Linked DNA regions of Homo sapiens: region 2 is linked to region 1. Evidence: fine-mapped expression QTL. A gene starts in region 1. The other region holds a variant in brackets. All regions are shown on one strand. Distances are between the middles of the regions. Region 1 holds the start of HPCAL1 (hippocalcin like 1). Region 2 overlaps HPCAL1 (hippocalcin like 1).

Region 1 (8,327 bases):
ATATATGGTCAAATGATTTTTGGCAAGGGTGCCATGATCACTTAATGGCAAAAGGACAGCTTTTTCAACAAATGGTGCTGGGAAAACTGGATATCTACATGCAAAAGAATGAAGCTGGACCCTTACCTAACACCATATACAAAAATTAACTCAAAATAGATCAAAGACCTAAAAGTAACCTAAAACTATAGAATTTTTAGAAGAAAACTTGGAGCAAAATCTCCACAATGTTGGATTTGGCAGTGATTTCTTGGATATGACATTAAAGACACAGACAACACAGAAAAATAGACAAATTGGATTTCATAAAAATTTGGTGCATCAAAAAGCAAAATCGGGCTGGTGCGGTGTCTCACGCCTGTAATCCCAGCACTTTGGGAGGCTGCGGTGGGAAGATCACTTGAGGTCAGGAGTTGGAGGCCAGCCTGGCCAACATGGTGAAACCCCGTCTCTACTAAAAATACAAAAATTAGCCAGACCTGGTGGCGCACGCCTGTAGTTCCACCTACTCGGGAGGCTGAGGCAGGAGAATGGCGTGAACCCACGAGGCAGAGCTTGCAGTGAGCCGAGATCACACCACTGCACTCCAGCCTGGGTGACAGAGCAAGACTCCGTCTCAAAAACAACAACAACAACAACAACAACAACAACAACAACAACAACAACAAAGTGCTGGCGGTGAGGATGTGAAGAAATTGGAACCCTGTGCACTGTTTGGCAGAATGTAGAATGGTACACTGTGGAAAGTATTATTATGATGCTTCTTCAAAAAATTAAAAATAGAATGACCACATAATCCAGCAATTCCACTTCTGGGTATATACCCAAAACAACTGAAAATAAGATCTTGAAAAGATATTTGTGCACCCATGTTCGTCGCAGCATTATTCATAATTGCTAAAATGTGGATGCAACCCAATGATTTCTTGACAAACGAGTGGGTAAACACAATGTGGTATACACACACATGGAAATATTACTCAGCCTTAAAAAGGAAGGAAATTTGGACATACACTACATCATAGATGAATCTTGAGGACATTATGCTAAGTGAAATAATCCAGTTGCAAAAAGGAAATACTGTATGATTCCACTTATGTAAGGTATTAGAGAGGTAGTCATTATTTAATGGGTATAGAGTTTCAGTTTTACAAGATGAAAAGAGTTCTGGAGATGGATGGTGGTGCTGGTTGCACATCATTAATGTATTTAATACCACTGAGCTGTTCACTTTAAAAGGATTAAGATGATAAATTTTATGTTATGTGTATATTATAATAAAAGTTAGAAAAAAATTGTCATAAAACTAAGTCAGATATTAAGAACAATCAGAATTACTTCTGTCTTGTTTACAGTCATCATATGAAAAACAAATTGTTTATCTAGCATGACACCTGTTATGGGTTGAATTGTTTCCCTCAAAAGATGCTGAACTTCTAACCCTTGGTACCTGTGAATGTGACCTTATTTGGAAATTGGGTCTGCACAGATGATCAAGTTAAGATGAGGTCATTAGGGTGTGCCCTAATCCAATAATGACTGTGTCCTTATGAAAAGGGAAAAGAGACAGGTATATAGAGAAGATGTGAATTCACAGGGAGCGCACATGGCCATCCATAAGCCAAGGAATGCATGAGGTTACCAGAAGCTAAGAGACAGACATGAAACAAACTGCCCCCCACATCTCTCCAAAGGGGCCAGCCCTGCCAACACTTTGATCTTGGACTTCCAGCCTCCAGAGCTACAAAACAACACATTTCTGTTGTTTAAGTTGCCCAGTTGGAGGTGCTTGTTACATTAGCCCCAGGAAATTATACAACATCTTACCTGAATTTGCTTTCTTCTTTGCTCTAGTTAAATTCAAAACTACATATTGAATAACGACGGTGTGCTCTCTCTCCATGAAGCTTCGGGGTGGGTAGACAGTCCTCCTCTTGAAGGAACAGGAGGGACGCAAGGGAAGGGACCAACTTGTATCTCATCTGAGAGAGATACACTCCTGGAATAAGAGGTCTGCGGTTAAGTGTGTTTCTCTAGAAGTTCAGAAACAGAGGAAGCATCTGCGGGCTAAGCTGCTGAGGGCTAGGTGAGAGCTAACTGACCTAAGTTTTGAAGGATGGATGGGTGACAGGTTGGAGGGGGAAGATGGAAAAGTCACATGGGAGAGGAACAGCATGGGCCAAGTGTGGAGGAACCAGTGAGTGGGCTGGGTTTCAGAAACAGGCCTTGGTCTGCTTTTGAGCCCTCCCTGAACTTTTCCACCCCAACCCCACCTCCTGCCTGTGTCTGCCATGCACCTCCCTTCCTGTGAGTCTGTGGACAGACTTTGCCCCTTTGCCCTGTGTGTGCTTGGGAGAAATCTGCTCAGTTTCTGTGGCAGGGATGTTTCTACGTGTTCATCAAACCGGCTTTGTTTACTTCCGAAACACTCATGAAGACCACAGCTGCCAGAGCCCCTTGCATCCTGGTGGGACTGTGCGACTACTTCTGGCCCATGGATGTGGGTGGAAGTGACGTGTGCTTCCCCAGGCCTGGCTCCTGGACCCCACCGACGGCTTCTCACCTGTAACCCCACCAGCCTTCTACCTGGATACTTCACGGGGAGCTAGAGTGGCCTTGGCTAAGAAGGAGGCATGGCACCCGCGGGTACCGGGCCGCCTTCATCAGTCGGTGCACTCTGGTCCACCGCCCACATGCCTTCATGTAATCTTCACTGTAGGGCCCACAGGGAGGGGAACTTCCTCGAGGTCTAGCTTTGCCTTTCCGCCTTCAGAGCCAAGTAAGAATGAGGGGTCTGGGCTCGGCCCACCTTCCCTGCAAGGCCCTGTGCCCGCTCCCCTCAAAGCTGGTCTTGCATGTTGCTCTGGCGGCCTCTGTAGCAGGAGTTCACTCTGTTTTCCGTGGAGGAGGAGTGGAAGGAGGGATTCAAGCTCTCCCCTAGAGACGCTAGAAAGACAGTTTTGTCTCAGCCTCATACGATCGCCCAGCTCCACATTTCTGGCTGTTTCTGTGGTTACCTTTCTTCGGGGATGTTTGGGGCGGGAGGTGGGTGTGTGTGTATATTTGCTCTTCTGAAGCCGTTTTTCCGGAGCTCCTGGTGGGGGTGGGGGTGCTCTGTCCCTGGTTCCTCTCGAGGCAGGTGCAGGGGATGGAGGATGCCCCCCTCCCCGAGAGCCAGGAGGCGCCGACCCTGGGCAGGAGGTGCCAGACCGGCGCCTCTCCCGCGTGGAGCTCGAAGACCACAGATGCCTGGAAGGGAGGAGCACCTTCCGTGGTTAGGTGGGGAAACCGAGGCAGAGGCGGCCCAATGGACTCGCCTAAACGGCCTGGGGAGTCACTGCAGGTAACCAGAGCTGGAGCCAGGCTTCCCACTCCAGGCCCGGGGCTCTCCCCCGAACAGGCGTGGGAAGGGGTGCGAGCTGCACGCGGGGCTGGGGCTGGGGGTGCGGGGCTGGGGCAACTCGGCTCTTCCCCTTCCTAGGCCGCCCGGGCCACTTCCTGCGGCGTGGGGGCGGGGGGCGCGGGCGCAGGGCTGGCCCCTCCCGGGCGCCGCCTCTCGGCCTCTTCTATACCAGCAGGCCAGAGGCCAAGGGTTAGGGGAACAGAACCGGTGCCCGGCTCCGCCCCTGTCCCGAAAGCCACTGGGGGCTGGGACCCGGCAGGGCCAGGTTTGGGCCGCGAGGGCCGAGGAGCAGCGAGGTGCAGGGGCTGCGAGGGCCGAGCCGGGCGCTGAGGGTCCGGCAGGGGGCGTGGAGGGGGCGGGGCCCGGAGGGGGCGGGGCCGTAGGAAACTTGAGCGCCCGCCTCTGGCCGCGCGCCCCGCCCCGGCCCCCGCCTCCGGGTCCCGCCTCCAGGTCCCGCCTTCGCGTCCCTTCCTTCCCGGAGCTGGCAGGCGGGCCGCGGCGGCGGCGGGCAGCGGACGGGCGGACTGACGGGCGCCTCCACCTTGCTCCCTCCCTGGCTGCCGGCTTCCTTTTGTCTTTCTGGGCGGCGATGAGCGCAGGGCCGGCGCAGCAGCTGCGGGCGCACGGAGGCCCGCGCTGCTAGTCACTCCTCCCGGCCTCGGCGCGCTTGTCCCGGGCAGCGGCCCGGGCCCGCTGCAGCCGCCGCCGGCGCCGAACTTGGGCTCGGGAAGCCGGCGGACCGCGTCCTGCGCCGGAGCAGGTAGGGAAGGGGCGGGCTGCGGTCTGCTGGCTGCTGAAGTGTGCCCCGGGCGTGTGCACCCGGCGTGTGCACCGGCGAGCGCTGCGATCCGGCTCTTTGCGTGTGTGTTGTGCGCGCGTGTGTGTGTCCGGGAGTGCCCGCGTTTCTCTGCGCGGTGGAGTTGTGGGTGACTGCGGACGGTGGTGTGTCTTTCGAATGGCGTGTACTCGTGGGCATCCATGTGTGCCTTAGGTGTGCACATTTTGGACTGCGTTTGTGGAATTGTGTGTCGGGGCGCAGTTGCTGGTGGGGAGCGGTGCCTGGCGGGTGTCGTGTGTGAGCAGCTGTGCGCAGAGCGGGGTGGCGGGGTGGGTGTGGGTGGTCCAGCCCCACGCCCAGAGCCCCCTGTCCCTGCTGGTCGGCGCAGTGCGTAGCTTAGGAGCCTCGAGGACAGCTGGGACCCGACGGGCAAGGGCGGGCCTCGCGGGCAGGCTGGGCAGCCCTCAGGGAACAGGTCCGTGCGGCCCACGTGGGTCGCCTGTGAGCTTCTGCCAAGGGTGGGGGCCCACGCGGAGGCGATCCGCTCGTTCCTCCCAGGGCCATGGGGCGACGAGGAGAGCCCTGGCCTCCCCGCGACCCGCACTGCGACCTGGGCCAGACGCGCCACCTTCCCCGGTCGCGGTTTGCTTCTCTTTAAAATGAGGACAGCTCCTCCCTTGGGGGCTGTGGTGACAGGTGAAATGAGAACGCACTGAAGACAGCTCTTGGTCCAAAGCCCCGCACACAGTAGGTACTGTGTTAATTGGATTAGCGTCTCCTGTTTAAAATCCTTTTTTTTTCCCCTTTATCGTGGGTGGGGCCTTACATTTTCCCCGGGCGTGTTTTGTGCCTCTCCCTGGCCCTAACTTAACCGCGAAGCACTGAGATTCGAGAAAGTTTAGCTGCCAGCTGCGCTGCCTCCTGCAGCACCTCCCGGGCGGCGCCGCCTCCGCGAGTGCCCGAGAGCGCCGCGCTGGGCGCCGGCCCTGCCCCAGCCCCCAGGCTCCCGCGCAAGCGTGGGGGTCCCTCTCCTGGCCGGGAGGCAGCGACTGCGGAGTTGAGAACCCTTTGGTTCAACAAGTTCCTAGTCCGGGAGGATGCAGCTCAGCTCGTGGAGTCCGAGAGTCACGGCGTAAAATTGGCGCTTCCCGCACATGCAGATCTCGGGCTCCCGGGGTGTCCCGGCCGCCAAAGGCCACCCCTTTCCTCCTGGCTGACCCCAATTCCACCAGAGGAGGATGTTTGCCAGGGACGCCGAGTCCAGCTGCTGGCCTCGGCATTAGACAACCCCCAGCCCCAGCCCCTGCCATCCCTGCTCCCTTGCAGCCAGCCTCATGCCGGGGGTGCCACATGGGACACCTCCTCCTAGTCCCACACCTTAATTTAAAACATTTACTTTTGAAACCTACTAGTCGTAAAATTGAACCGCAGTGAACGAGCACCCAGCTCTTACCACGACTCACTCTCTGGAGAGTTCTGGCGCCTCGGCGCTGGCTCGGACGCAGCAAGGCCAGCTCTAGGGGTCGGGTGGCTCTCGGCCAGAGCGAAGGATATTCTTTCCCTTCATCGCCTTGGTGTCTTTCTCTGGGGGAAAAAAATCGCCTTTAACCAAGGGAGCCAAGATCTCACCAGTGCAGGAGGCTCTCAAAATGGAGCGCCGGCATGGGGTTGGGCTGCGGAGGGGACAGCATGGGCGGCCTTTTGGTATGGATGCGCTTCCCAACTGTCAGGGGCTACGTGATGGTGTTCCCAGAGAGGCGGGCTGCTTTGCGGGCTTTTAGGAGCCAGGGATAGAAACCTGGTCCGGTTCCTTTGGTTTCCCTCGGCCGAGACTGAAGCCCTGCAATCCTAGCCATGGCAGGCCAGGGGGATGCGATGAACTCATTTTCTCATTTTTCATCCTGACTTAGTGACAGGGGCACACTTAGAATGCACCCTGTTTTCTGTTTCATCAAATGATTTTATGTCCTACAAGAAAAAAGGGCTTTTGGTGTGAATCCTACTCTTTCCTCATAATCAGGTTCCATAATAATATTAAAAAAAAAATCAGTCTGGCTTTCTCAGCTCAGAAGACAGACCCAAACCCAGGTTTGTGTTTTGTTTTGTTTTTGTTTTTTTCTAGTTAAAGCCAGCCCTTTGTCTCAAGCAAGCCAGTGTTTTGGCCTTAGATCTATTTCTGTTTCACTTTTGAAAGTGCCTGTAATTACTGAGCTCTTGAGGTTTTATTGGATAATGTGGCAAAGGGAAGGCCCGGGGGCCCTGCCTCTCCCTTGCGGTGGGATGTGGTGCCACGGTGGCACATTCTAGCCTTGCCTGCTCCCTCTGCGTCCCACTTTCATGCTGTTTTTAAGGTGGAACAGAAATGTCAATGTGTGATAACAATTTGGGAGACTTTGTCTTTGGAATCCAATAAATGGAAGGTCCTTTGATCTGTGGAGAAACCAGAACAAGTCAAAACCCCAGAAGAACAGAGATTTGCCCAAACTCCAGCCAATGACCCATTTATTTCCAACAAGCCCTCCTAGAGATAGATTCTAAGTGAAATACAAGAACGTGGACACACTCCGTCCCCTTTCTGGCCACAGGGCTGTGCAGAATTAGAAGTGCAGTCTATGGAAGGACAAGGACTGGACTTCGCTTGGTGCAAACGCCCCAGCCAGGCGCCCCATACTCACCTAGCACCATTTCACCCTGGAGCTGTTTCCTCCTGTTGAAGCGCTGGTGCTCACACCCCCTACCTTCAGGGCTCTGCAAGCACAGTTCCAAGGTCTGCAGCGCGGGTACAGTGCATGCCCTGCTGAGTGTGCGTCAGAGCAGTTGTCTCCCTGTGACACTTATTCTAAGACCCTTTTTGCTACTCATAAGTGGTAGAGTACCACACTCACTCATGAACCAGTGATAATCCAGGGTACTAACGGGGGCCCCGGAGTTTATTTGGCACCGAAGATTAAGCTACTTGGCAGCTGAATTTTTATCTAGATTGGGGTTAGGTTTGTATTAAAATTTTGCATTCCAGCAAGCCCTAAACCGTGCTTGTTCATTGTGGGATAATGCGTTCAACTGATGAGTTGCCAGGCCAGGATTGATGGGGGATTATGTGTATTCTGCTAGTTTGTCAGCACCTGATGTCACTGTGCTGGGGGGTGGGGGAGGCATGTTTGGAGTTAGGATGAGCAGACACTTGTAGATTTTAATCACACTCTACTTTGGGGCTCCCTGCTCTCCTATGGTAGCAGGGGGTTTCTGTGTCGTTCTTATGTCCTCATGTAAAGCTGCACATCTGTGAATGTCAGGTAGCTCTTGTGCTTTTCCCCTTAGATTGAGTTTCTAATCTGGGAATGACAGAGGGTGGCTGTATATGGAGACAGCAGCATGGGCTTAGGGGCTCTTTTGGTGCCAGTTACCCTACGGAAAAAAGGTTTCTTCAAATCACTTTCTACAAAGACTAAAAAATGGTTGGAATCTAGTGGTGCAGATTGTAATATGACTTCAGGTAATCAATACGGTTTGACAGGTGGAACATTTCTTAGATGCTGATGAGCAGGGCGCAAGTCTCAAGATTTTTAAATCATCTGAAAAGCACAGTAAATCCTTTAAAGAGCCCTACCTTGGCCATGTTGTTTCAAGTAAAATTGAATTTCAGAGGCAAAGCTTCACATCGGAGGCATGACGAACTAAAGAAATCCTTCCCAGAGACCTCCACTCTCTTCCTGTTGCCACCCTCCTCTGCCAGCAGCAGGGCAGGAAAGATGACTTCTTGGGGCTGTGTGCCTTTACCTTAAGAAGCAAGTGCACCCTGAATGCTTCTAATCCCGCAGCTGGGTTGTCTGGGTATTTGGATCTTTTTGGTGCTTGAGGTACTACCCAAGTTGGCAGGAAGCCAGGAGCCTGGGGGTGGAGGTGTCTTAGCCCCACCTGTGGCATGAGACAAGAGGTCTTCTCCAGCAAGGGATGGGTCTCTGACCCTTGGCTAAGAAAACTCAGGATTGTTAAATACGTACTGCATGGATAAGGTTGCTGTGACCCTGAAAAAAGGAAGAAGGCTTTTGGGTGGTGCGTGGTTCTCCTCTTGGAAGTCTTCCCAGATTTCGCCTCAGTACTCTCTTGCCCTAGCTTAAATCTTTCCTTGCTCTGTGTCCCCTTAGG
Region 2 (8,327 bases), 34 kb after region 1:
AGTAGCTGCGAGAAGACATCACAGGTAGGGGGATTCTTGCCAAAGGCAGGGGGGGACTTTGATGTCAAAGGTGGGGATGAGGACTGATTGGATCTCAAGGGTGGTCAGATGTGAAGGGCGTGAGAGGCTCACTAAACTGACTAAGCAGGATTCTTGCTGAGACTGGGCCAGGCAGGCTGAAGACAGGAGGCAGAAAGAGGGCTCAGAGGAGCCTGAGTGAAGTTTGATCTTGGGGTGAGGGGTGCAGGGGGGAGGGGCAGGGTGGGTCTTTGTTGGGGCTCTGTGGGAGATTTCAGGGCTCACTGGATGTGTGGGGCACAGTGGGCCCTGCCTGAGCCCCATGACGCCTGGACGCTGCCACCAGGGGCCTGACCTGCTGACGATCTCTGCACTGGGTCTTTAATCAGCCTCTTGGGCATTGTAAATGCTAGACAAAGATTCTTCTCTTTTTAAAGTTTACTAATTTCCCTACGATAAAACTAATGCATTTTCACAGGAGAGACTCGGGAAATTACCAAGGAGCGTGAATCAGGTGGTCACAGTGAATTGTGGATGTTTGTGTCTGTCTTGGGGAACTGGTGTAACGTTTCTCCATCTGACCCCTGCTGTCTGTTGGAGGTCAAGGAGCCAGCCTGGCCTCACAACTTCCTCCTTTCAGCAAAGTCAGGAGGCCATTCCCTCCAGGGATGGGTGGGCTGCAGCCTCTTGGCACCTCTCGGGATCCTGCTGGCAGATGTATCACCGTAGCCCAAGCCAGCCTAAGCCAGCCTCCTGTGGCCCAGCACCTTCTCTTCCCACGTGGGCAGCTGTGTTCCCAGGCAAACCTTCCTGGAATTGCTCTGTGCTCTCAGAGCTGGTGTGCTTTGGTGTTCAGCTGTGGCCATTTTGGCTTTGAGTTTGATTTGATTTTTGAAGAAAGTTTTTATTTCTTTACCCAAATATTCTATGTCTCTTTGGTAAGACTGGAAAACACAGAAAAACAGAGAAAAAAATTCCCCCATAACTACCCTGCCCACCTCCATATAACTTTTATTAGCATTCTGAGCTATACCCCTCCAGACTCATTTCTGCCTCTCCAGAAGTGTGCATAAAGTCTAGAAACATAGGTGAAGAGACCTAATGCCATCAAGAACATCAACCTGTAAAGGAATAAAATAATGTCATCTGTGTCCAGATTTTACAGATGCTTTGTAGATATGTGTAACAGAAATGTGGGTATGTTTTAGCAAAAATAAGACCATATTTTTGTTTTATTTTGATTGATTGTACTATAAATTCCAGTAGAGCATTACAGAGCCAGCCCAAGCCCATCTCTCCTCTTCTCTACTCTTTTCTTTCCCCAGTGACCAATAGCCACTCTGCGGAGGGAAGTAGGGATCATATTTGTGCGCGTTTTACGCTCTTGCTACACATGTGCGTAACCTTAAACAAAACATTAGTTTTTATGTGTTAGAAATACTCATAAATGGTGGCCCAGGCATGGTGGCTCACGCCTGTAATCCCAGCTCTTCGGGAGGCTGAGGCAGGAGGAGGCTTGAGGCCTGGAATTCAAGACCAGCCTGGGCAACATAGCAAGACCCTGTTTTGTTTTGTTTTGTTTTTTAAACAAACAAAAAAACCAACAACAGTTAGGTGGGTGCAGCATCATGTACCTGTAGTCCCAGCTCTTCAGGAGGCTGAGGTGGGAGGCTCTCCTGAGCCCAGGAGTTTGGGGTGATAGTGAGCTGTGGTCACACCACTGTACTCCAGCCTGGATGATGGAGTGGAGTGAGACCTTGTCTTTAAAAAAAAAGAAAAGAAAACAGAAAGAAATACTCATAAATGGTATATATATATATCACTTTGTAATTTGTTCTTGACTACTTTGTCAACAATTTTTAAGCTGTATCCATGTTGATACATAGATGTGGTTCATGGTCTTCTTTTTTCTCCTTTTTGTTAACTGCTGTATACAATTCCATTGACTTTTTTTTGAGGCAGGGTCTCGCTCTGTTACCCAGGCTGGAGTGCAGTGGCACGATCTCGGCTCATTGCAACTTCCACCTCCCAGGCTCAAGCAATCTTCCCACCTCAGCCTCCCAAGTAGCTAGGACTACAGGTACATGCCTGGCTAATTTTTGTATTTTTTATAGAGTCAGGGTTTTGCCAAGTTGCCCAGCCTGGTCTTGAACTCCTGAGCGCAAGTGAGCCACCTGCCTTGGCCTCCCAAATTGCTGGGATTACAGGCGTGAGCCACTGTGCCAGCCCCCATTGTCTAAATAAGCCATCGTTTCTCTAGTCATATACAGTTAGGTCACTTCCATTTTTTCATTAGTATAAAGAGTGCCATATGAATATTGATCCTCCTTGAGTGCTGTGGAAGGAAGCCTCTAAGATGCCGCCACTGGTCCCCACATCCTGGTCTTCACACCCTTGTGTAATCCCTTCCCTCGGGTGTTGGCTGGACTTAACTGACTTGATTCTAACAAATAGAACACAGCAGGAGGAATGGGACATCACTTCTGACATCAGGTTATAAAAAGACTGCAGCTGCCAGCTTGGGTGTTCTCTGTTGCCCTCTTGGATTGCCAGCCCTGGAGGGAGCCAGATGCCATGTCTCAAGGCAGTCCTGTGGAGAGGCAGGCCTAGGTGACAAGGGACCAAGGCCTGCCAACAGCCATGTGAGTGAGCTTGGAAGCAGATCTCCATCCGCTCCCCACTCCCAGCTGAGCCTTCGGATGAGACTGCTGCCCTGAAAACAGCAAAGGGGAACCTCATGAGAGACCTTGAGCCAGATTCCCAGCCCAGAGAAATTGTGAGATAATGTTTGTTGTTTTCGGCTGCTGACTTTTGGAGGGTCATTTGTTACACGGTAACAGATAACCAATACGAGCACACCCTGAGAATTCCTTAGAGGTCTAGAATATTTAGCAGTGGAATTGCCAGGTGCTATGGTATTCTCACGCTCAACAGTACTGTTTATTACTAAATTCATCTCCAAGGCATTTGTGGCAGTTTCACTCCCCTCTACAAGGGTCAGTGAGCTCCTTTTCCTCATACCTCTCCGGCACTTGTGTTGTCAGACTTTAACATCTGAACACTCTGATGGGTGTAAAATAGTATCTCATGATTATTTGAATTTGTACTTCCCTAAGTTCTAGTGAAGTTGGACATATTTTCGATACATTATTGTCCTTTCTGCTTTCCTCTGCTGTAAATTAATTGCATGTTCGTATCCTCTGCTGTAAATTAATTGCATGTTCATATCCTCTGCTGTAAATTAATTGCATGTTCGTATCCTCTGGTGTAAATTAATTGCATGTTCATATCCTCTGCTGTAAATTAATTGCATGTGCGTATCCTCTGCTGTAAATTAATTGCATGTGCGTATCTTCTGCTGTAAATTAATTGCATGTTCGTATCCTCTGCTGTAAATTAATTGCATGTTCGTATCCTCTGCTGTAAATTAATTGCATGTGCGTATCCTCTGCTGTAAATTAATTGCATGTGCGTATCCTCTGCTGTAAATTAATTGCATGTTCATATCCTTTGTCCAGTCTCCTTTTGGGTGGATTATCTTTTTCTTAGTGATTTGTAGATTTTCTTTTTTTCACTCTAGAGACTAATCCTTTGTCAGTTCATGCTATTTTATACTCTGCTTTTTTCAGTTAGCAGCGTATTGAGAATGTTCTTCTATGCCAATGTATACATCATTTTATTGACATTCCATTGTGGAGATGGGTCATTTATTTATTTAGGTGGACGTGTAGGTTGTTTGCACTTTTGCATTAGTAGGAACATGACTGTGTGTCGGT[C/T]AGCTGGGCTATGCTCTGGTACTAATGACCCTCCAAATCTTAGTGGTTTGCAGCAATGAAGAATTCTTTGTCCCTCAAGTGACATGACCATCACCTGTTGGTTGTGGCTCTGCTCTATGACGTTGTCCCTCAGGGAGCCAGGCTTTCAGAGCAGCCCCATCTGAGACATTGCTGGTCTCATGGCAGAGGGAAAAAAGATGGTGGAACAACATAATTCTATTTCTGTTTTTCCTCTTTAGAGACAGGATATTGCTGTGGCACCCAGGCTGCAGTGCTCTGGTGCTATCATAGCTCACTGCAGCCCCGGAATCATGGGCACAAGTGGTCCTCCTGCCTCAGCTTCCCAAGTAGCTGAGACTATAGGTATGCACCACCACACCTGGGTAATTTTTACTTTTTATATTTTTCGTAGAGATGGGGGCCTTGTTATGTTGCCCAGGCTGGTCTTGAACTCCTGGCCTCAAGTGTTCTTCCCACCGCAGCCTCCCAAAGTGCTGGGATTACAGGTGTGAGCCACTGGACCCGGCAGGAACAATATACCTCTTAAAGCTTCTGCTCAGACGTGGGAATGGCTATGTGGTGCGTGTCAGTTCCCCTCACATTGCATTGGCTGAAGCAAACCCTGGGGCCCAACCAGTGTTGGCGGGGTTAGAAGTAGACCCCTCCCATAGGGAGGCCAGGGAGGGAGGATTTTGAGCCAAGACCACTCACCACGTGCTGTGATGAGCAGTTGCCTCCCCCTCCTTTCGTGTCTTCGTGCCTCCTCACGTATTCTTACAAGTAGAATTGCTACATTAGGAATATGCATATTTGTAAAGTATTTACTATTTATTATGTCAGCTAGGTTTTAACTGTCACTGCATTTGCTGTGAATTATAGGTAATTATTCATCCTGATGACCATTTAAAAAAGAAGAACAATATTATTAGGTAGAAATAGTCCCTGGCTCCCCGGTTGCCCACCGTGACTATAACAGCATATCTAGCTTGGTAGTTTTCAAATTATTTCCACGTTTTATTTACTTCTCACAGCCTCCCTGTGGGGTTGCAGGTGCTTCTCCACTCCTCCACTGACAAGGTGCCTGAGGCTCAGAGAGGCTGAGAAATGTGCTCTGGGCTGCACAGCTGGGGATGAGGCGTAGACCCTGGCCCTGCTCTGTTCTGGGCTCTTTCTCCTCCACTCTGGCCTTTGGAGGCTGTGGCTAAGATCTTCCCCCAGCCCCTTCCTTCCCACCTTCCCTTCCTGCTCTTGTGCCCCGTTTTTCACAGTCCTCAGTGGCTGGTTTCTCAGTCCCCCAGGAGGTGCAGGCTGGTTCTTAGGAATGGTCTCTGTCAATGTTCCCGGCAGTACCTCCGAGCCTGCCCTCTGAGGATGGGTCGGCCATGGCTGCGCCGGCTTAGTCTGTATTTAGGTATCACTGACTATCACTGGACTTGGGGAGGGGATTTACTATTTTTAGAGAAAGTCAGGGGAGCTCCATAAATCCTGTTAGTCAACAGAACTGCAGAGAGGTGGCTGTTTATGAAGGAGAGTGACTTTTTTAGAAGTGGCGCATTTAGAAGACCACATATTCTATCATTCTGTGTACATGAGCGGTGCAGAATAGGCAATTCTAAAGAGACAGAAAATAGATTCGTGATTGCAGGGAGTGGGGAGGAGGGATGGGAAGCGACTCCTAAGGGGCACGGGGTTTCTTCTGGGGGTAATGAAAAGCGTTCTGGAATTAGATAGTGGTGGTGGCTGTAGGACCTGGTGAATAATAAACTGAAAATCACTGAATCGTACCCCTTAAAAACACACAAAGCAAATTGACAAATTATTGGGAGGCAACATAAGAGAATGGGGTGTGAACTTTGGATCAGTGCGGCCTGGATATCAGCTGTGTGGTGTTCAAATAGATTGCATAACCTCGTTGAGTCTCAGTCTTCCCATCTGTGAAGTAGGGATCATTCCTACTTCGTAGGGTTGGCATGAGACTCCGTGAGATGAAGTTGGTGGGTCACTTGGCTGGGGCAGGTGTCACGGAGCGGGACCTGTGATTGTTCAGCCACCTACTCTGTGCCCAGTGCTGTGTTGGTGACCAGGTATGTATGAAGTCAGTAAGCCACAGTCCTGAGTTATGGTGCAGACCCCACATGCACCCAGAGTCAGCTTGGCAAGACCCCTTGACACCACGTGCGTGGAGGGTGCAGGTCGGAGAGCTCACCTCCATGGATTCCGTAGAGCTTTGAGGCGTATCCACAAAGTGTCCAGGAGAGGTGGCGTCGCCTCCACTTGATAGAGGAAAAAGCAGAGATGGAGGCAGCCAGAAGCATGGTGCAGTGGTGGGGTTTGGTCATTAATTTGATAATCACATGGAATACAAGCTAATGTTTATTGAGTACTTACTGCCTGCCTGCTACTGTAACTAAGTGCTTTACTCCTGTTATCTCATTTAATTCTCAAAGCAGCCCTGTGGCACTGAGGTGGCTGGAGATGGAGGGATGTGTGGCTGCCATGTGTTTGCCAGGAAGCAGCAGGATGGGAGTGAGGGCACAGACAGACACACATGCCAGGACTTGTTTGCACGAAGCTGAGGAATGGGTGCCCATCATTCATTATACTCATCTCTCTGTTTTATGTATATTTGAAAAAAAAATTTTTTTTGAGATAGGGTCTCGCTGTGTCACCCAGACTGGAGGGCAGTGGCATGATCTCGGCTCACTGCAACCTCCACCTCCCGGGTTCAAGTGATTCTCCTGCCTCAGCCTCTGGAGTAGCTGGGATTACAGGTGGGCGCCACCATGCCCACCTAATTTTTTTTTTTTTTTGAGACCTGTCACCCAGGCTGGAGTGCAGTGGTGCGATCTCGGCTCACTGCAACCTCCGCCTCCCGGGTTTAAGCAATTCTCTGCCTCAGCCTCCCCAGTAGCTGGGATTACAGGCACATGCCACCATGCCCGGCTAATTTTTGTATTTTTAGTAGAGACGGGATTTCATGCCTGATTAATTTTTTTGTATTTTTAGTAGAGACAGAGTTTCACTATGTTGGCCAGGCTGGTCTTCAACTCCTGACCTCAAGTCATCTGCCTGCCTTGGCCTCCCAAAGTGTTGGGATTACAGGCGTGAGCCACCGCGCCCAGCCATATTTGAACTCTTTTACAGTAAAAAGTTTAAAAAACAACAATCCTATGAGGTAGGTCCTCTTATTTGTGCTTTACAGATGGGGAAATTGAGGCTCAGAGCATGTAAGATTACACAGCAAGATTCGGAGATAGCTCGCCATGTTCATGCCCGGCAGGACGTAGCAACAGGGCTGGCGAAACGGAGGCCCCAGGCTTGTGGGCCTCCTGGGGTTCCTGTGCGTTGAGGCCTGAGCCCCTGCGTGCGCCCAGCGGAGCCAGCACTCTCCCTGTGGTCCTACTGGGCATCACAGGTGTGTATGTGAGGGGTATGGGGAGGGGATTCTTGGTTAGTCTGGGCTTCATGACATTGGGATGAGTTCTTTCACTTGGTTTTGTTGATCTGGTAAAATCTGTGGTCCTGTGATATCACCTTGCTTCTCATAGTATGAGCCTTCAACATTTGGCCTCAGTGGTGGGGTGTGCCTGCACCGCCTTCCCCCATCCCTGCCTCGGCTCCTCCCCACAACAAAGCGGAAGGAAGACATAGACCCAAGGGTGCACTTCAGCCCCTCAACCAGCTGTGTGGCTTTGGAGAAGCGGCTTAACATCTCTGATCCCAGTTACCTTTCTTGAACGGGAAAGATATCAATGCTTCCTTCACTGATTACTGGAGCTTCTTGGTGTGCAGTGTCTAGGCTGCTTTCTAACCATGTAAGGTGTAGCCACAGTATTGTAGGACCTGTTGCTAAGAACTGTGCCACTATCTTGATAAACATGTTTTCCAGGGACTGGTGGTGGAATGTTCTAGTTATTAATGTGCCTTTAACGTTGGATGACTCAGAATATCCCTCAGATAGTAGGAATAGGTAGCTTTGAGAGGTCATCTGTAGGAGGGCGCAGGAACATCCCAGGAGGGGGTGTCATACCTGTTGGCACCATGGGGATGCAGGCTCAGAGGGGACTGAACTTTCCAGGGCCACGCAGTCTGTAAGCGGCAGAGCTGGGACGCAACCCCAAGCTTGCTGCTCTCAAAGCTTTGCTTTCAAACTCTCACTTCAGACATCAGGGCTTCCTTTCAGACTGAGTCTTATCCCTAAGCACTGTTGGAGAAGAAAGTCTCCAGGCTGCAGGGCCCCGCAGTTCCCCCATATCCCTGCCCTTCCAGCCAGCCCACGCCTGGGGCCTGTCCTCCCCTGTTCCTGAATCCCTGTCCTGTTACTGCCCTCCGGGTAAGACAGCACTCTTATAATCATGCTTCATGCCGAGTTCATGAAATTAACTCTCAAACTCCTCTTCTCTGGGTTAAATTATTTCACTTTTTTCCCTTCCTCATAGAATATCATTATAAATTCTAGATACTATATTGGATATGTAATAAAATCAGAATAAATTACATGTGATGGCCACTGAACTAACCTCCCTTCATGTG

What was found.
Region 2: its variant is fine-mapped to the expression of HPCAL1 in whole blood (INTERVAL, PIP 0.97).

What each region holds. Positions count from the first base shown.
Region 1 is chr2:10,299,015-10,307,341 of GRCh38, forward strand. It overlaps HPCAL1 (hippocalcin like 1), which reads left to right and starts at 3,890. Exons shown (of 5, transcript NM_002149.4): 1 at 3,890-4,163. LOC101929691 (a long non-coding RNA gene) reads right to left here and starts at 3,703. Exons shown (of 4, transcript XR_922791.3): 1 at 2,564-3,703; 2 at 1,828-1,999. RefSeq lists silencers at 3,425-4,204, 4,089-4,286, 4,605-4,784 and an enhancer at 4,465-4,524.
Region 2 is chr2:10,332,731-10,341,057 of GRCh38, forward strand. The region is part of intron 1 of HPCAL1 (hippocalcin like 1); the gene reads left to right. Among named protein-coding and RNA genes, the nearest start is that of HPCAL1, 34 kb to the left of the region's middle. The variant C/T (reference allele first, on the strand shown) is at 3,795.